Regions from separate parts of the Homo sapiens genome. Here region 2 is linked to region 1. The links come from fine-mapping of genetic effects on gene expression. A gene starts in region 1. The other region holds a variant in brackets. All regions are shown on one strand. Distances are between the middles of the regions.

The links. PIP is the estimated chance that this variant, and not a neighbour inherited with it, causes the effect.
Region 2: its variant is fine-mapped to the expression of IPO13 in lymphoblastoid cells (GENCORD, PIP 0.95).

The regions. Positions count from the first base shown.
Region 1 is chr1:43,941,499-43,952,978 of GRCh38, forward strand. It overlaps IPO13 (importin 13), which reads left to right and starts at 5,452. Exons shown (of 20, transcript NM_014652.4): 1 at 5,452-6,186; 2 at 7,919-8,655. The coding sequence starts at 6,103. LOC101929609 (a long non-coding RNA gene) reads right to left here and starts at 5,101. Exons shown (of 2, transcript NR_188535.1): 1 at 4,983-5,101; 2 at 2,857-3,298. RefSeq lists a silencer at 5,248-5,497.
Region 2 is chr1:43,797,964-43,805,963 of GRCh38, forward strand. All of the region lies in intron 3 of ST3GAL3 (ST3 beta-galactoside alpha-2,3-sialyltransferase 3), which reads left to right. Among named protein-coding and RNA genes, the nearest start is that of MIR6079, 37 kb to the right of the region's middle. The variant A/G (reference allele first, on the strand shown) is at 3,768.

The DNA of each region.
Region 1 (11,480 bases):
GAGGTCAGAAGATCGAGACCATCCTGGCTAACATGGTGAAACCCTGTCTCTACTAAAAATACAAAAAATTAGCTGGGCGTGGTGGTGGGCGCCTGTAGTCCCAGCTACTCAGGAGAATGGTGTGAACCTGGGAGGCAGAGCTTGCAGTGAGCTGAGATCGTGCCACTGCACTCCAGCCTAGGCGACAGAGTGAGACTCCATCTCAAAAAAAAAAAAATTGTTGTTTATCTCATATTCAAAATTAAATAGATGGCCAGGTGCGGTGGCTCATGCCTGTAATCCCAGCACTTTGGGAGGCCGAGGTGGGCGGATCACGAGGTCAAGAGTTTGAGACCAGCCTGGCCAATATGGTGAAACCCTGTCTCTACTAAAAATACAAAATTAGCCGGGGATGGTGGTGCACACCTGTAGTCCCAGTTACTCAGGAGGCAGAAGAATTGCTTGAACCTGGGAGGCAGAGGTTGCAGTGAGCCGTGACACTGAACTCTAGCCTGGGTGACAGAGCAAGACTCCATCTCAAAAAAAAAAAAAATAAATAAGTGTCCTGATTTTTTTCTGGCAACCCTAGGTAGGGGTAAACAAGTACCCCAGTAGAAGTATGACTGAGGTTATAGGTATGTGTGTCAAGGAGGGGGCAGATTCTACAATCACAAAGGAAGAGGAATCAGTTTTTTCCTGGATAGACGCAGAAGAGGAAAAGTCTTTGTGGAAAAGGTGGTATTTGAACTGAGTCTTGAAAAATGAGTTTGTTTGCACAGGGTGGATTATAGGGTGGATGAGAGGCATGGAACCCGAACTGGTTATTGCTGATTGCCTTTATTTCCTCTCACTTCTAAATGTACACTGTTCATTGTGGCCATGTCCTGTCCTGCACGGTGTGGTTCTCAGCCCTGGACAGGAATGGAGTGGAGAGGTGAGGGCCTCTTCCTTGGGCTCTCCATCTCAGCCTGAAGACTCTGCTAGTCCTATATTCTTTAGATTTTTATTTGTTTATTTATTTATTTATTTACTTCTTACTAGCCAGTTCATCACAGCTTCAATTCCCTGTTACACTTCAAAATGCTTATGTTGAACTTTCCCTGCCTGCTGACTGTGTGATGTCTCTCTCCTGATGGCATCCAGAATGACACAGAGCCTTCTCAACAGAGGAAGTAGCATGAACAAAGACAGGGAAGTGTGAAACAGCCTGGTGCGCTCCCAGGATTGCCAGCAACTTCAGGTGGACTTGGGGAGGGTCCTCATCAAGACAAAAGACTGGAGAGGTCACAAAGGGCTTTGAATGTTATACCGAGAAGCTCAGCCTTCGCTCTGAAAGGAGCCACTAAAGGGTTTTAAGTGGGCTTGGTTAGAGATGTGTTTCAGATGGATCACTTGCTACTGTGTCTAGTATGGATGGAAGAGGCAAGGTGGGTGCCAGCTAGAGCTGCCATAGTTAGAGCCGTTCAGGCAACAAGCACAGGTACCTTGAGTTAGGGCAGAAGCAAATGTGCAAGGACAGAAGAGATGTGAGGGACAATAAGAGAGGTGAGGGCTGGATGAGAGATGGTTTCCAGGTGTCTAGCTTGGGGGACTGGTACAGAACACAGGGGATGTAGTATTTTAGCATGTGATAGGGGTAAGATGTGGGGAAAATGTGAGTTCAGTTTTGTACATGTTCAACTTTGGGTGCCTGTGGCAACTTCAGAGGGCCAGGAGGCAGCTAAATATGCAGGTTTGAAACCCAGGACAGTCTGGGCTGGAGAAATCCAAGGAGTCACAGCTTGAAGCCAGGGGAGTGGTGAGATAATGAGGCATAAGACAAGAAGCGGAGACTAAGGAGGACCAACATTTAAGGAACAGGTGGAGGAACAGGGATGGGCCAGTGAAGGAAACCAAAAAGGAGTAGTCAGAGTGTCGGGAAAAACAAAACCAAACAGAAGAGCTGAGGGACTGGTCAATAGGGCCAGATGCAGCACAAAAATCAAGCTGCATCAGAACCGAAAACTGCCCGTTAGGTTTTCTTGCAACATGGTGGCCTAAGGACTTGGGCTAAACTTCCTCCTGAAAACAACTTTAAATACTAGACTCTATCTATCTTTAAAATTAAATGCATCCATAAGCTAGCAAAAATGTAAGAAACACACTGAGGCCAAAAAAGTAAATGAAAGCAAGAAGCTACAAAGGTAAGCAAAGCTCTGTCATTGGCTTTCATCTTGAGGGCAGTTGCCGAACCCAGAGAACCTGATCATTGGTTTTCAAGGGGTCTCTGGGCTTATGAGAAAGACAAAGCCCAGGGCCCCCTCACCATGGGGAGTCTATTTAGAAACTTCTCCATAAGGCCAGGACCTCAAAGGCCAGTGTATGCCTACACTGTGAAGGTGAATTAGAAAGAAACCTGCCCCTGTCTGACCTAACCTCTCTCCCTCAAACCAGGGGACTACAAAGAAAACTGCCTACATCCAACCTTGGTACTAAGAAAGGGGAATAATCTCCCCCTGAGAATTCTTTTTTTTCTTCTTCTTCTTTTTTTTTTTTTTTTGAGACAGAGTCTCGCTCTGTTGCCCAGGCTGGAGTGCAATGGCGCGATCTCAGCTCACTGCAACCTCCACCTTCCAGGTCCAAGAGATTCTCCTGCCTCAGCTTCCCAAGTAGCCGGGACTACAGGTGCCCGCCACCACACCAGGCTAACTTTTGTATTTTTAGTAGAGACAGGGTTTCACCGTGTTAGCCAGGCTGGTCTCGAACTCCTGACCTCGTGATCCACCCACCTCAGCCTCCCAAAGTGCTGGTGGCATGAGCCACTGCGCCCGGCCTCCCGCTGAGAATTCTTAACTGCAAGCAGGCAGTCGTCTGGTTTTGCAGACCAAATTCACATGATTTTGGTAGGCTGAAAAACTTCAAAGTGATCATTTAATTTGACATGAACATGGATTGGTAGTGGTTCCAGGTGACCAACAAAAGCTCCCTCTCCTCCTCTGCTGAGTTTTGGGATGTTCCCTCCTGAATCTGCAGACCTCTCCCAGGGTTGCCACAGGTTCTTGCCCCTATAGGTCTACACTTGTTCCTTAGAGAAGAAAGAGCCCTTCTGGCTCCCAAAGACTTATCTGCCACTTGGCTCTGAGCTATCCTGCACTAACATCCAAATCTCCTGGAGATCACCTTTGGTCTGGCCTCCGGAAATGCCCCCAACTCTCCCCAGGGCCTACTTCAGTCCATCTGTCCTAAATAGTGTTTGCAAAGGATGTTCAGGAGTCATTGCTGTGAGACTGGGCTTCTTTCTCTGCCAGATCCCTGGAACCTCCAGGGATGAGGAGGAGCCCTGGATGGGAAGCAGGAAGAAAACACATACTGACTAAGTTGTGGTCTCTGGGCTGAGCCCCCCACCCCTAAAACCCCTTAACTAAAATGAGTTTCAGAAGAAGCTAAGGTCTCATTGCTAGAAAGAGGCATAAACAGGTTTTGAACTCAGGACTAAGTCCAGAATTTGTGCATTTAAACCCCACTCCCAACACCATCTCCCCTGCCCACCACCACCTCCACCAGTGAAACCGCCAGCCAGCACCAGGCCCAAGGTATTTCACACCCTAGGCACAGGCCTGGAATCAGTTACTTTATTTTGGCTTTCTATTTCCTCCTTCCAAATGTCTCCTGCCTCTCTTTCTTCCTTCAATTTGTCTTTCATGTTGCAGATTTTTCTAAAATGCAAATGTAATCATCATTGCTCACTTGAAACCCCATCATGGTTTCATATTGCACTTAGGATAATGTCCAAACTCCTACAAGAATCTATTGCCACCAACTTGTCTTTCCAACCTCATCTCTGTTACTCATACCCTTCCCCTTCCCCACCCCACATATATTCTCTTAAAATGAATATAAATTACTTACTATTCTTTCTTTTCTTTTCTTTTTTTTTTTTAGACGGAGTCTCACTCTGTCGCCCAGGCTGGAGTGCAGTGGCGTGATCTCAGCTCACTGCAAGCTCCACCTCCCGTGTTCAAGCCATTCTCCTGCCTCAGCCTCCCGAATAGCTGGGACTACAGGTGCCTGCCACCATGCCCGGCTAATTTTTTGTATTTTTAGTAGAGACGGGGTTTCACCGTGTTAGCCAGGATGGTCTCGATCTCCTGACCTCGTGATCCGCCCGCCTCAGCCTCCCATAGTGCTGGGATTACAGGCGTGAGCCACCGCGCCCGGCCTACTTGCTATTCTTTATTGATGAAGACTTGCTGAATGACTTAGAGTCCTACTGGATTTTGCTTACCAGCTAAATGGGCCCCTCTCCTTCCCAGGCTCTCTATTCTTCAAGCTCAGATCAAGTTTCTCTTCTCAGGGAAGCCTTCATGGACCTTCTCAGGCCTCAGCAGCTGCTGCCAATGCCAGCTTCCAATGCCAGCTTCCTCCATTTGAACAAAACTACGGAGCTCTTTGCACTTTTAATTTTTTCCTCTTCCCTGCTAGGGTAGCTGGCAGGAGTTAATAAACAATAAAATACAACTGGAGGGGTGACAGGCAGGAACTACCGGGGCCTGTGGCAGACCAGATCTATGGCATGGTCTGCCACCCTGTCTGTGTGCCAGGGGCAAGATAAGCCTAACTTTCCCCAAGCTCGATTTCCTCATCTCATCTGAAAATGATGAATAAAAATATCCACCTCAGAGCTATTAAGAAAACTGAACCTAAGGTAAGCAAAGTCCTGCTCCTAGCACTTAAATGTAAGCTACTCTTACTCTAGTTACACATAAAGTTACTTCCAAAAACCTTACGAAATTCCCCGAGCACTGTCCATGGTATGTGGTTTCCCGGTTGCTTATTGGGTGGTCCCGAGAGCCTTCCTTTTTTCCTTCCTGAGGCGTGCCAAGTCCCCTCTCCTCTTCTCTGGGTGGTGCTGACGCCTTCTTCCCAGGCTGCACCTTTGCTGGGCCGGAGGATGCCCCCGGCAGCGGAGCGCCAGAGTGACCAGGCAACCTCCCCAGCCTCCACCCTCTAGCCCGGGCTCCCACCTCCGTCCTCCGGCCCCTCGAGTCACGTCGTCCTACTAAGGAGTTGGGCCGCAGCGCCCCGCGCCGGTCTGACCCGGAATGCCTGCTCGCCGCGGTAGGCCGAGGACAGGCGGGGCTCTGCAGGTCCCCAACCCACGTGCTCCCGGCCTCCTCCGCAGGGCGCCGCCTTCCGGCTAGGCGCAACACGGACTACATTTCCCAGGGTGAACAGCGGCGGGGCCTAGACTCGGCCGCGGCCTGGGGCGGCGAGCCGCTCCACCGCCTGCTCAGGGGAGTGCGAGCTGGCGCGAGGACAGGGCTAAGGACCCGGAATGAGTTTCCGCGCAGTTCCGCTGGGCCGTGCCGGCCTGTACCGGGCCGTGCCGAGCCAGAACTGGCAGGAGTGGGGGCCTGAGTTGGAGGTGCCGGGGACAGGCGCTCGGGGCAGCCCGCGCCTTGCCGAGGTCCCTGCCCCGTCCCGGCCGGCCTGGCTTGTCTTGTCAGTCACTGGGGCGGAGGCAGCGGCTGTAGCGGGGCTGTAGCCGGGCGTTGAGCACAGCGCGGGCCAGGCCGAACGGAAGGGACCTGCCACAGCCCCTCAACTCCACGGACTCTTCGCCCTAGACTAGCGGAGCTGCATCTCCGCGCTTCGTTGGACGCCTCCGTAACCACGAAGGGCTCTCTCTCTCCCGTGACCCTCCAGCCCCATGACCTGTTCATAGCAGCCGAGAGCTCACCCAGGCGGGGGTGTTGTGGGTACAGGCCATCGACCCTGTGACCCCTCAAGAGCCAGGGACTCGGTTTCCCCCGCAGGCCTCCCTCCCCTGTGACTCCCTCCACACAGATTCTGGGGACAGAGCTGTTACCTGCCACTAGGATCCCCGCCTGAGAGCTCCTCACTGACGGCTCCCTCCTCGGAGTCCCCTTCATTGGGTCTCCTAAGAGCACCAATTTTGGTCTCTGGCAAGCCTCCCACCCCCAAACGAGGTGGGGAGGCCTCGGCAGCCATGCCCGCCCTGGGCCCCCCCTCACCCCACCACTCCCTGGGCACCCAAGCCGGGGTCTAGCAGGGGGCCAGCAGCCAAGGGGCTGGGGCAGGAGACAGATCAGGGCCCACCTCCCTGCCAGGGAGGGAGCAAAGATGGAGCGGCGGGAGGAGCAGCCGGGGGCTGCAGGGGCTGGAGCAGCACCAGCCTTGGACTTCACTGTGGAGAACGTGGAGAAGGTATGAGGGCTCTGGGGTGGGCACTCCAGTGACAGAGCAGAAGTTCTGGGGACTGTCACTGATGGCAGAGCTCAGGCCTGGGCTGGGTGCCCGCTGGTATGGTGCCCCCAGAGCACCTGGCATTTGCTCTCTTTCTGGGCAGGCAGTATTGCAGTGCCCTAATGGGCTATTTTTGTCTTTCCTTACAGGCAGGTCCCCTGTGGATAGATACTCTAGGGTCTTGGGATGGTCCCTTCAGGGTGCTGTGACTTAGCCTTCCGTCCAGACTGGCTATGTTCCAGCTCCATGGGAACTGCATGAGCAGTGCAGTAGGAAACTGGGAACCCAGGAGACCTGCAGCTCAGTCTCCTGGAATTATACTGATGCCAAACCATCCTGGACCTGGTTTTGTTGAGCCAAGGGCTCAGAAAATAATCTGGAACTAAAACAATCTGGGTTGTTTTGACTCTTTGGAGAAGGGTCCTTCCTTTATTGGATGGAAGCCAGACCAGTCCTGAGCAGGCAGGCCTGGGGCTGTCTCCCTTTGTTTTGTGCTGAGTCCAAGGGTCCTGGCCCTGCTGGGAGCCTTACAGGGCTCCTCCCTACTCGCCTGCCCACATAGCTCCCTGCCATGGCCCTCCCAGGCTCCCCGACTGCCCAGCCCATCTTTCTGAACTGCCTCTTTGGTTCTTTTCTGTATCTGCTCCCTACAACTTGAAATGCAGGAATGCATGCACCCTGGGATGAATGGGGAGATGGGGCTCCCTTACTTGAAAGCAGGGAATGATGTTCACTTGTTATCCTTAACCCCCGTTTGCCATAACAAACAATGAGGATGCATCTCTTCTGCCTGCTTTGGCGTCCCTGAGGGGCCAAACAAGGGCCAATGGCCATAACTGGCTGTCAGGGGTACAAATAGAGCTAAGCTTACTTGGATGGAGCCTGCTTAGGGGTCAGGGTCCTGGCCATACTCTTCCGCCCCTTGGAGCAGGGCAGTGTTGGCATGGTGGCGCACTGTTCCATGTGCTATTGGGAGATAAATCTCACTGTTTTCTTACTTCATAAAGTCCCGTTGGAATTGAGACCCCGGGGATTCTGCTAGTGGAGAGCACTAAGCTAGGTGTTTGCCAGGGCTGCAGCTATGGCCAAGGCTTCTCTGGATCAATTGGTTGGACATGTGCCCTCTGAGGAGTGTTCTCACCCTCTCCTCCAGCATGTCTGCCCCAGGGCTGCCTGGCAAAAGTCTTAGTCCTGCTCTGATTTCACACTGGCTTTGGTGCCAGCATCTGGACTGACCTAGGGATGATCCTGGGGGAGCTGAAAGGAGCTGTTGGAGTTGATGGGAGCAGCTGTGCCTGGGAGGGTCAAGTCCCCTCAAGCTGTTCCATGCCCTTCTCAGACTTAGCTTCATCCCTGTGAAGCTGTTCCTTCCACCTGGGCCTTGCCCTCAAGTGCCTCCCCTTTGGGGAGATCAGCCTCCTCTTTTTTGCTTTCCTGTGGAGATTCCCTCTCTGAACCCATAATGTTTTGCTGTAAGGAGAAGAGGATATGGTAGAGCATGGGCAAGGTTCAGGCTCTCAAGATATCAGCAGGACCCCAGGCCCAGGAAACACTGCAGAGCGCTGAGCTCTCCCTGCTCAGCCCCCCAGTCAGGGAGAGGGAGCAGCCTTGCAGGACCAAGTCACGCCTCTGTTCTGGGCTCTGGCAGGATCCAGAGTGGCCAGCACCTGCTCAGTCCTGTGCTGTCCTGCAGGCGCTGCACCAGCTCTACTATGATCCCAACATTGAGAATAAGAACCTGGCTCAGAAGTGGCTGATGCAGGCCCAGGTCTCCCCACAGGCCTGGCACTTCAGCTGGCAGCTACTGCAGCCCGACAAGGTACCAGAGATCCAGTACTTTGGGGCCAGTGCTCTTCACATCAAGATCTCTCGCTACTGGAGTGACATCCCCACTGACCAGTATGAAAGCCTAAAGGCACAGCTCTTCACCCAGATCACCCGCTTTGCCAGTGGCTCCAAGATTGTACTGACTCGGCTGTGCGTGGCACTGGCCTCACTGGCTCTCAGCATGATGCCTGACGCTTGGCCATGTGCTGTGGCAGATATGGTACGACTCTTCCAGGCTGAGGACTCACCAGTGGATGGGCAGGGCCGCTGCCTAGCCCTGTTAGAGCTGCTGACAGTGCTGCCTGAGGAGTTCCAGACCAGTCGCCTACCCCAGTACCGCAAAGGCCTGGTGCGGACCAGCCTGGCGGTGGAATGTGGGGCTGTCTTCCCGCTGCTGGAGCAGCTGCTACAGCAGCCCAGCTCACCCAGCTGTGTGCGTCAGAAGGTGCTCAAGTGTTTCTCCAGCTGGGTGCAGCTGGAGGTGCCGCTGCAGGACTGTGAGGCGCTCATTCAGGCTGCCTTTGCTGCTCTGCAGGACTCGGAGCTCTTCGACAGCAGTGTGGAGGCCATTGTGAATGCCATCTCACAGCCTGATGCCCAGAGGTGAGCTAGTACCCACTCACCCAGAAGACAACCTCTTTGGCCAGCCACACATCCATCCATCCATCTGTTCAATAAACATTAATTGAATGTGTACTGATACCTGGTCCTATGCTGGAGATACAGCAAGGAACCAAAGAAGACATGGTCCCTGTCCTCATGGTTCAGACAGGGAGGCAGACATTAAACAACTAATTATCAGTTATTCAATTAAAATATTTGACTCTCTTTTCCTTCTCTCAACTAGTCACCAAGTCCTGGCTGTTCCCCTCCTGACCATATTGCAAATCTATTTTTTTCCATTTCCATTGCTACCACCTTAGTCCAAGCTGTCATCATCTCTCTCCCCAGATTACTGTAGAGCTTGTCCTCACTCTTGTACCCTTCATTGTCCCAGCAGCCACAGTGATCTTTTGAAAATGGGGATCTAATCTTTCTGATCAGAAGCTTTCAGTGGCTTCTCAATGCTCTTAGGTTAAAGCTCAGAATCCTTAATGTGACTCATAATGGTGCTGCACAGTATGGCATCACTGGCCTCATCTCATGCTACTCTCCTTGCTCTCTACACGCTCACACAGTTTCTTTAATTCCTTGAATGTCCCATGTTCCTTTCAGCCTCTGGCTCATTACATATACTTGACACCTTGCCTCAGCTTAAACTTCATTTCCATAGGGAAGTCCTCCATGGATTCTTAAGGCTAAGTTTGATCTTCTCTCTTATATTACCTCAGAGCTCCCAGTATTTTTCCTTCTTAGCCCATAACATGATTTCTCTCACCTCTGTGAGGACAGGGACTCTGTCATTTTACTTTGTCGCATTGTGCTCGGCACATGGTAGCATTTGATATTTTGTGAATGGAGGAAAGTAGGAGTTGCCTGAGTTGGGAGGGGTGGGGCTGGAAGGGATTGGGGGAGGAAGGTGGATTGTTCTAGGCTTTAGGAACCACAGCATGTGCAAAGACTTGTGGGCAGCATCATGATATATTCAAGGGCCCTAAAGAAGTGAGTGTAGTGAAGTGTTTGGCAAATGTTCATTGAGCATGTCCTGTTTTGGGCCCTGTGCTGAGCTCTGGGAGCACAGAGACAAATGCTTTAGCTTCAGTCTCAGGAGCTCACAGTCTAGTGGACACATGAGTGGCAAGTACAATCAACATGATGAATCCTCTGATGGAGAACGCAGGGGCCTTGAAGAACCCAGAGGAGGCTTTCACTGAGTCTGAGGGCTGTGAAAGGATTCGCAGAGGAAGTGACAACCCAGCTGTGTAAGAGTTAGCCAGATGGAAGTGATGGATGGGGAGGACATTCCAGCCCAAGCAAGGGAAGGGTGAAAGCCCAGAGGGTCTGGTGATCTGTAAATCATTAGATGTGATTAGACAGCAAGATTTAAGGGCCAGAGGTATAGGAGACCTGGGCCCAGATCATGCAGGACCTTGGCCAAGTTTAAGATTTTGATCTTCATCCTGAAGACGATATAAAGATATTAAAGGATTATAAGCAGAGAAAATGGCCTACTGAGACTTTTGGTATGAGCTGGATTAGAAGAAGTGAGACTGGAGGTCCTGATGCTGACATTTCAGAGATGGGGCTTTGGGACCTTTGGCAGAATTGGAAGGGAAAACCATTGAAAGAGACTTCATGGAAGAGTGGCTGATGACTCAAGCCTTGGCATTAGTCACATCTAAGTTTGAATCCCAGATGGTTCACTTATTAGATCTGAAATCTTGGATCAGCCATTCCTAAGGCTCCGTTTCCTCATCAATAAAATGGGGATGATCATATCAACCCCACAGAGTTGAAAAGGTTTAAACAGGATAATGTGCACAAGTCCTGCCCCTGGTGTTCGGTAGAGAATATTTTGACTCCTTGAGTAATGGGAGTTCTTTTGTGGTCTCTGCTAGGGTTGGGATGGTCAGTAGCATGCATTTGTACCTTTGGGTTATTGATACGTTACATGTTTTAAAATGGGAACTGTGTGTATATGTTCTACCTTTATACTTTATGTGATCAGTTAATGGTAATTGTTTATTTATTTATTTTGAGACAGAGTCTCACTCTGTCACCCAGGCTGGTGTGCAGTGGCACAATCTCGGCTCACTGCAACCTCCGCCTCCCGGGTTCAAGCGATTCTCTTGCCTCAGCCTCCAGAATAGCTGGGATTACAGGCGTGCATCACCACGCCCAGCTAATTTTTGTATTTTTAGTAGAAACGGGGTTTTGCCATGTTGGTCAGGCTGGTCTTGAACTCCTAACCTCAGGTGATCCATCTGCCTCCGCCTCCCAAAGTGCTGGGATTACAGGTATGAGCCACCATGCCTGGCCAACTGTTCATTTTTTTAAAGAGAAACATAGTTACTATTAAATGGATTAAGGCTGTTTACTTTTAGTACTGGTCATAAGAAGTAGAACTGGAATCATGCAATAGAAAGTGGGCCTAGTTGTTCAGTGGCTAAATTTGAAAAGGAGTTGGTTTCCTATATATATATGTGTGTGTATACATACATATATTTATATGTATATGATACACACACACACATAGATAATGTGCTTAATCACTGCCTTTTGAAACTTTAAATAAAATATTGGGTTGATTTTAAAAAATAAAAGATTGTTTCGGTATGAGGATTAAATAAGAGAATGTGAAGCTTTTAGCATGGTTCCTATATACTCTGTAAACGGCAGTTGCCAGTATTTGGTTTCATTATTGTGTTGGGAGTTATTATGATACTTATCCCCTGGCTTCCCAGGCTTTCCAGCTTAAGGTGGATACCTAATCCCAGATCTCTTGGCAGCCTGAAGCTCAAGTGCTGGGTGGGCTCTGACAGTTGGTG
Region 2 (8,000 bases), 150 kb before region 1:
TAAAACACATAGCAGCTTCCCGAAACCAAATACTTATGTGTAAATGCTTATATATAAATCTGATGAAACATATATAGGAGCTGTATGCTGAAACTAGTTCCTCTCCCACTTTTTCTTCCCCATCTACCCAACTGAAAGTTCAGGCTGCAAACCTAGAATCACCCTGATTGTTCCTCTTCCTTTACCCTCTCCCCCTTTCCTGTCTTCACAATGTGTTCTTCTCTAGCCGCTTCTTTCTAGCACCACTGCCCAAGGTACCATCTTCTCTTCCCTAGACTAGAAACATCTCCTGACTGGCCTGTCTGTGCCACTTATTGCCTTCTGTACCTTGTAGCCAGAGTAATCTTCCAGAAACCTAAATCGGATCCTGTCTTGTTACCACTGAAGCCTCTCCAGTGACCTTACAGTACATTTACAATAAAATCCAAACTTGTCCCTCCTTCCTGAGTCCTACTTAACCTCTCCAATTTCCCTGTAGTTCATTTGCCTTCAGCCCACTGCCCTCACGCTACATTGGCATGCCTGTGGCTCCTTGAGGATGTCAGGTCCTTTCCTGCCTCAGGGTCTTTGTGCTTGCTGTTCCCACTTCCTAGACTGTTCTTACCTCCTGCTTTGCGTTGCTGTCTTCAGGCCTCTGTCCCACTGTCACCTCCGCCAGAAGGTCTTCCCAGACCACTTCATCTAAAGTAGTCCACTCCTCTAACCAGTCCTTCTCTAAAAAAGTATGTCTTCAGTTTTTCTTAGCATGCCTCCTTCCTTCAAACTATTTGCTTATTTACTTGCACACTGTCAATCTCCCCTACTAAAATGTAGGCTTCATTTTGGCCAAGGACTTGGTCTGTTTTGTTCATCACTGTATCGCCGGTATTTAGAATGCGTCTGGCACATAATAGGTGCTAAGTAGGTGTTAAATAAATAGGTGTTAAAGAATAGAAAATTAGGAACAACAATATTCACTAATTAAGGAGTGCTTGAGGTCAAATAAATAATGGCATATCCATTCATTGGAGTAACTGCAGTCATTTAAAATGATGATGCAGTTTTACTTTTATTGACACAGACGATGTCGAGGATATTGTTGAGTGAACAAAACAAACAAACAGCATGCATATTAAGGCCAAGTGTAGGTAAAATTATGTATGTACGTTCATACATATACAGTATTTATGGAAAGAGATTTCTGGGAAAATAGTCACCAAAATATTTGTAGCAGTTAGCCCTAGGTAAATAGGGGTTTCAAATGGTTCTTACTTCATTCTTTATAAGTGTTTTGGATTTGGATTTTTGTATTGAGCATATGTTATTTTAATAACTGGGAAAAAATTAAGTTATTTTTGTTTGGGGAGTAGAGCTCTCTCTTATTTTGTTTAATAATTGCTTTGTGATTGTCGTAGTCTCTTTGGGCTGCTATAACAAAAATACCTTAGACTGGGTAATTTATAAACAACAGAAATTTATTGCTCACAGTTCTGAAGGCTGGGAAGTCCAAGATCAAGACATCAGCAGATTCAGTGTTTGGAAAGGGTCCATTCCTCATAGATGGAACCTTCTGTGTGTGTCCTAACAAGACAGAAGAGGCAAATAGGCTCCCTCAGCCCTCCCTGATAAAAATATCAATCCCATCCTAGGGGTGGAGCCCTCATGACCTAATTACCTTCTAAAGGCCCTACCTCTTAATACTATCACATTGGATATCAGGTTCCAGCACATGAATTCACAGGGGACACCCAACATTCAGACCATTTCAGTGAGTATTTATGCCCTATCTATCCCATGAGGTGGTAAGCTCCATGAAGTTTAAGATACAAACTGCAGAGTGAGCCATTTTTTCCCATTTCCTGTACCAGCAGCTGTTTTGACATGCTGTCCCTCCTAATCCTCCTGCAGCTTAGTGCAAGATGCCCTGGGATGGCCCGGACACAGTTGATGCTGTGAATAGGATTAAATTCACTGCAGTACTCAGCCCTAGATATCTGCTATTTTCCCAAGACAGAAGAGAGATAGATGGGTGCAGTGACATTTTTGGCTGCTGTGGGAGGGGGCTTCCAGGGCTCCTTCTGTAGCCTGTGATTCTCTTACCTGGGGCCAAGGACATGTCATGCTCCCTTGGCCCCCAGTATGCCACGTTGGAGAAGAGCTGTGCTGTGCTCAGATGGAGGCCTGATAGTCACAGGGGACTCTGTTACCAGAAGCTTCCTACTAGGCCTCTCACCTCCCCCACACCAACATACACCCATTTGAGATTGGATCTTAGTTTGTAAACTTCTAAGTTATTTTACTGAATCAGTTAATTTAGTCTAGGTCAGTGGGCTTTTCTGTGTTTATTTTAGAAAAATGCTTTTCCTTTTAGTTTCTCTTTGATTAATTGATCCCATGTTGTGGTTTATTTCCCTGACTTGAGATGATGTGGGAGCTATTTGCACTTTGGCCAGACCTTCTCAGGCCTCTTTTGACTCCCATGATTCATGTGTGGTATGGCCAGGGCCTTCTGACATCACCCTGGGGCAGGAGATGGGAGGTAATAGTACATCATTGCTGTCATGGAAACTGTGCTGCTAATGTGAGGGTCTGCTTTTCTTGTTTCCTCTGAGAGTCATTGTGGGCATAACGTAAAGGAAAGAATCAGCCCTGGGTTGGTTCCACGGCATCCCTGCTAGCCTACTTCATGATTGGGGGATCTTGAACATATCTCCCCTGTCTAAACCTCTCTTTCCTCATCTGTAAAATATAGTACCTGCCTCATGGGGCTGTATAGGTGACAGTACTGAGAACAGCATGAATACAAAGGAAGATGCTCAATAAATAGTAGTTCCTCTCAGTCCCTTCATTCTGCAAGCCTGACAGCCCATTTGGAACTATTGCCAACTTCTTCCTCCACCCAAGCCATGGCATATATTACATATGTTTAATATACCCCATGACTTTTTTTTAGAGATTGTACAGTGACATTTCTTAAGAAATGATAGAGCTGTTTTGGCTAGGGTAGGTCCTCATTCCATTTACTGCCATTCCCTTCGTACTTAGCAATTCATCATAGCCCAGAGATTGGAGCCAAAGACCACTTTAAAGAAGATCTGGCAGCAGAGCTGCTTCTCTGGGTAAATGGAGTTTTCTTGCCTCATGGACTATCCTGCCTATGTGGCTTTGTGAATTATAATTCGAAGCACGGCAATTTCTGATAGAACCAAGTTCATGTTTTTATCCCATAAAATACCAAACTTTATATACCTCAATAATGCTCCTTAAATTGGTGTTCATGGGCAATATTTGTGGTTGTCATCAGTAGCAGTCATTTAATAAGCATCTTCTTTGTGCCAGGTACAGTGACAGCTGATTGGAATTTGTGGTGGTTCATTACAATGAAAAAAGGAAGTGGGTCACTCACAACGGAAATGCCAGTAGCATGTTAGGCTCATCATGTACAACCGTATTCCTTGAAATTCCATTCTGGGGCTCAGTAGCCTGAAGGTGAGGCTACAGTAGGACACCTGGCTTCAGGAACCTTCAAGAAGCTCTCTCTTTTGTCCTGGAACAGGATGTGACTGCACAGCCTGGTGCTCCCAACTGCACGTCAGAATGTAGGTAGGAAGTAATACTTATGTGCTATACTAGGACAAATAGGAGAGGACTTGGAGTTGTCTACATAGGGCATTGTGAAAACATTTGTGATTTTTTTTTTTTTTTAATATTACAGAACTGTGATGAACAGGCCAGGTATGGTGGCTCACACCTGTAATCCCAGCACTTTGGGAGGCCAAAGCAGGAGG[A/G]TCAGTTGAGCCCAGGAGTTTGAGACCAGTCTGGGCAACATGGTGAAACCTGTCTCTACAAAAAAATAAAAAATTAGCCAGGCGTGGTGGCATTGCACCTATAGTCCCAGCAGCATTGCACCTCTAGTCCCAGCAGCATTGCGCCTTTAGTCCAAACTACTCAGGAGGCTGAGATGGGAGGGTCACCTGAGCCCAGGAGGTCAAGAGTGGGACGATCCGAGTTTGCACCACTGCACTCCAGCCTGGGTGACAGAGTGAGACCCTGTGTCAAACAAACAAACAAACAAACAAACCAAAAAGAACTATGATGAGCAAAATGAAACACAAAGTATTAAGAAATTTATTAAATATTGAATTGCTATACCATAAAAATCTTTTCAAGTTTTTAATTAAAAACTAGAGCTTGTTTCGGTGTTCATAAATTTTTATTCAGGAGTTTTGTCTGGGAAGGCTTCACATAACTCCTGTCAAGGCTTTTTAATGATACTCTCTTAAAAAATACTCAGTTATCATCAAAAACTCACACAAATAACTGACAAAAATATAAAATCATTTTTATACTTATTCAGATGTTTACAGCAGTTGAAATTATATTTTAAAAATCCAACAGTTCTTCCTTTTCCTTAATCAAAATTGTAAGGTTGAAATTTCTTCAGTTAGAACAAATGGATTTCAAATCTAATCTCACTTTTTTGTATCAGGTATTTCAAAATAGCGTGAAGCTCTGTTGCAAAATGTATATGAATTCTTAGAGCAGTCACCCTGGAGTTGGTTGGAGATCATAAAAGGCTACATTCAATGCACATAAGCAGCGATACTACCCAATATGTGAGAACAGGTGTGTTGCCCTTCACCTGGAGCTGTGCTCCCCTGGGAGTCCCCACCTGGCTGGCCTGCCACTGACCAGCAGCCTCTTGGGCAACACTCTGCTCCATGAGTTTTTCATGCAACATTTTTCATGGAACATAATTTTTACTTGAAAGTACAATTGACAGACTGTGGTTTTTTCAGACTTTGGAATTTGGCAGACATTTTCTCAGTAATGAAAGTGAGCATTATCACTTCAAGGGAAATAACTGACAGTATTTTGTTGCCGGCAATAAAATGTTATTCCATGCAATAGCTTCTCAATACTTAAATTTTAAATTAAGAGTTGGAGGCTGACCCTATGTTATGGCCTCACAGTTGGTTGGTTTTTGTTTTGTTTTGTTTTTGTTTTTGAGACAGAGTCTCACTCTGTCGCCCAGTGCAATGGCGCCATCTCGGCTCACTGCAGCCTCCACCTCCCGGGTTCAAATGATTCTCCTGCCTCAGCCTCCCAAGTAGCTGGGACTACAGGCACGTGCCACCACACCTGGCTAATTTTTGTATTTTTAGTAGAGACGGGGTTTCACTGTATTGGCCAGGCTGGTCTTGAACTCCTGACCTTGTGATCCGCCCGCGTTGGCCTCCCAAAATGCTGGAATTACAGGCATGAGCCACCATGCTTAGCCTGGTCGGGTTTTGTAAATGCTCCCTACATGTCTTGTAGGCCGGGCACAGTGGTACGCACCTAGAGTCCCAGTTACTCGGGCTGAGGTGGGAGGATCACTTGGGCCCAGCAGTTTGAATCCAGCCTGGGCAGCATAGCAAGATCCCACCTCAAAAAAAAAAAAAAGGAATGTGCATTCACCATTTGTTGGATGTAAGGTTCTCTGTATGTCTGTTAGTTTAAATTTAGTAATTGTTCTGTTCAAATCTTCTGAATTCTCACAGACTTTGTGAGCCCGATTTTTCAGTGGTTTATGATGGTAGACCAACGGTGTCATTTTCTTTTAGTTCTGTTAATTTTGCTTTATATGTAACAAGGTTTCATTATTACATGTATTCACACTTTAATGCATGGGATCCTTTTGTTTATGTCCAGTTTCTGAACCTTTTAAGAGTTTACATCAGTGTTCCAGTGTTCATCCAACAAGTTATATGAATCTTTTGCTATGACATCTAGACTGACTTATTCCTTTAAGGCGGCAATGGAAGAGTTAATGGTTAATTTCAAAGACGTCTGAAAAAGCACTTTGTGCATTCACAGCTCTGACTTGGTGCACGTGCAGGAGGGGAAGGTCAGGGATTTGCATCAGCCATGTCACTCCCCACCTGGAGCTGGGCAGAGACACACGTGCTCCTTGGTCAGTGATTTTTGTAATCCTGGGCTTTCCAGCCTGGCCAAAGCAGGAAGCCTAAGCCATCAGACTAAACACTTCTGCTGGCTTTCTGCTTTCATACCTGGGGAGGAGAGTATCTTCAGGTGCTAGGAGAGCTGGAATATGAGTGCATATTGTGCCTGGCTGGCCTGGGATTCCTAGAGTGTTCTGTTCTTTGTACAGATCTGGGATCATTGGGCTGCTGGTGAGACCCAGACTTTCATGCCACTACCCGAGAGGTGAATAGTCCCTGAAGTGTTGGTACACTCAAAATAGCAGTTCCTCTGTATAAGGCAAATTCACATGCAACTCTAAGAACACATTTGTATAAAGGAGATGCGCTGGGATCTGTAACCTTGCCCAACCCCAGCAGTAGAGAAGCTCTGCTCCTGTATTCCTGGAGTATAATGCCTATGCCTTCCTGATTGCTTTCTTTTCTCATTTACACTTCCTAAAGATGATGCTTAAATTTTCCTGCTAGTCAGGGAACTCTGTGAGGGGCCACACACAGACTGAATAATCAGTAACATGACTATGAGGCTGGGGCTGAGAGTAAAGTGCTTGTCAGGTAAAGACCTTGGTTGAGATGGAGCAGACAGACGCCAGTGACTCAGGTGACTCAGGAAGTCTTTGTGGAGAGGGTTAAATTTCAGGCCTTTATACATGATGGGAGGGAACTACCTTGGCAAACTGGGAGTTCTTAAAAGGGAACCCCAAAGCAAAACTCAGAAAATAGAAGGTGTGAAGGGCATTAAATAAACAGTGTGGCAGACAGTTAGTTGCGCCTAAGAAGAGCCAGAGGAGGCTCGCTGTGGGCAGGTGACAGTGATGTAATCAGATAGGCTGGGAGCCAGGAAGGGCCAGAGCAAGGGAATCACTGCAGTCGAAGATGGCAGGCGAGGGAGAAGGAGAGGGAGAGGAAGCCCCTGCTGCTGCCATCACTGCTACCACCAGCACTGCCCCCTCACTGCAAGGGGTGGAGGAAGACAAAGACTCCAGGTCTCAGGGCACTTACTAGGCTGCCTTGCTTATTTGGTCACTCTTTCCACTCTTCCATCCATTCAGTACATTATGGAATACCAACTCTGTGCCAGATGTGATATTGGGTGCAGAGGTGAGCCCTGCCCTTTATGAGAACCCAAATACATGTAAGCTAGGATAGTTTAATTGAAAGCAACAAAAACTGACTGGGGATAACTGTTTTTAAAAAGGAATTTACCAGAAGGACATGGGTACCCACAGAATCCAATTGGAAGCTAAACATCGAGCCCTCAGAAAGAACATGAAGGGCAGCCCCAGGAATCTAGGTTGCAGGAACAAGTGGTCCCCCTCTTCAGCACATTATTTTTCTCCCTCGTGTCGCTGAGTTTAGGGAAGAAATTGTCCCACTAACCTAGCTTTTGTCAGGTGCCTACACTTTGGACATAAATCCCATCGACAGTCTCACCACTTGCCTGCAATGGGAGAAGAGCAGTTCCCTGAAGGAAACCCAAGGGGCTTGTTTCTAAAAGGACAGAAACAACAGATGTGCATTGCAGGTTCATGAATAAGTTCTGGAAGGGCTGGAGAGCACAGATAAGGTGCATTTAGGCTAACAAGTTAGATCAGAGAAGATGTTGTTCGTTCAACATTCCTTCCACATGCCAAGCATAGTGTTAGGTGATGCACCTGTGAGGAAAAGAAGAGTCTTAGTGGAACTTCTAGACTAGCAGAGGAGAGGCGTCTGTCGGTAAATGTATAATCACAAACTGGAGAAAGTACACTGTGGCACAGGAGCATTTGAAGGGTGAGGTCTACATAGGGAGGACAAGGAACGCTCTTCTTTTTTTTCTTTTCTTTTTTGACGGAGTCTCACACTGTCACCGAGGCTGAAGTGCAGTGGTGCGATCTCGGCTCACGGTAACCTCCACCTCCTGGGTTCAGGCAGTTCTCCTGCCTCAGCCTTCTGAGTAGCTGGGATTACAGGCACGCACCACCACACCCGGCTAATTTTTGTATTTTTAGTAGAAACGGGGTTTCACCGTGTTGGTCAGGCTGGTCTTTAACTCCT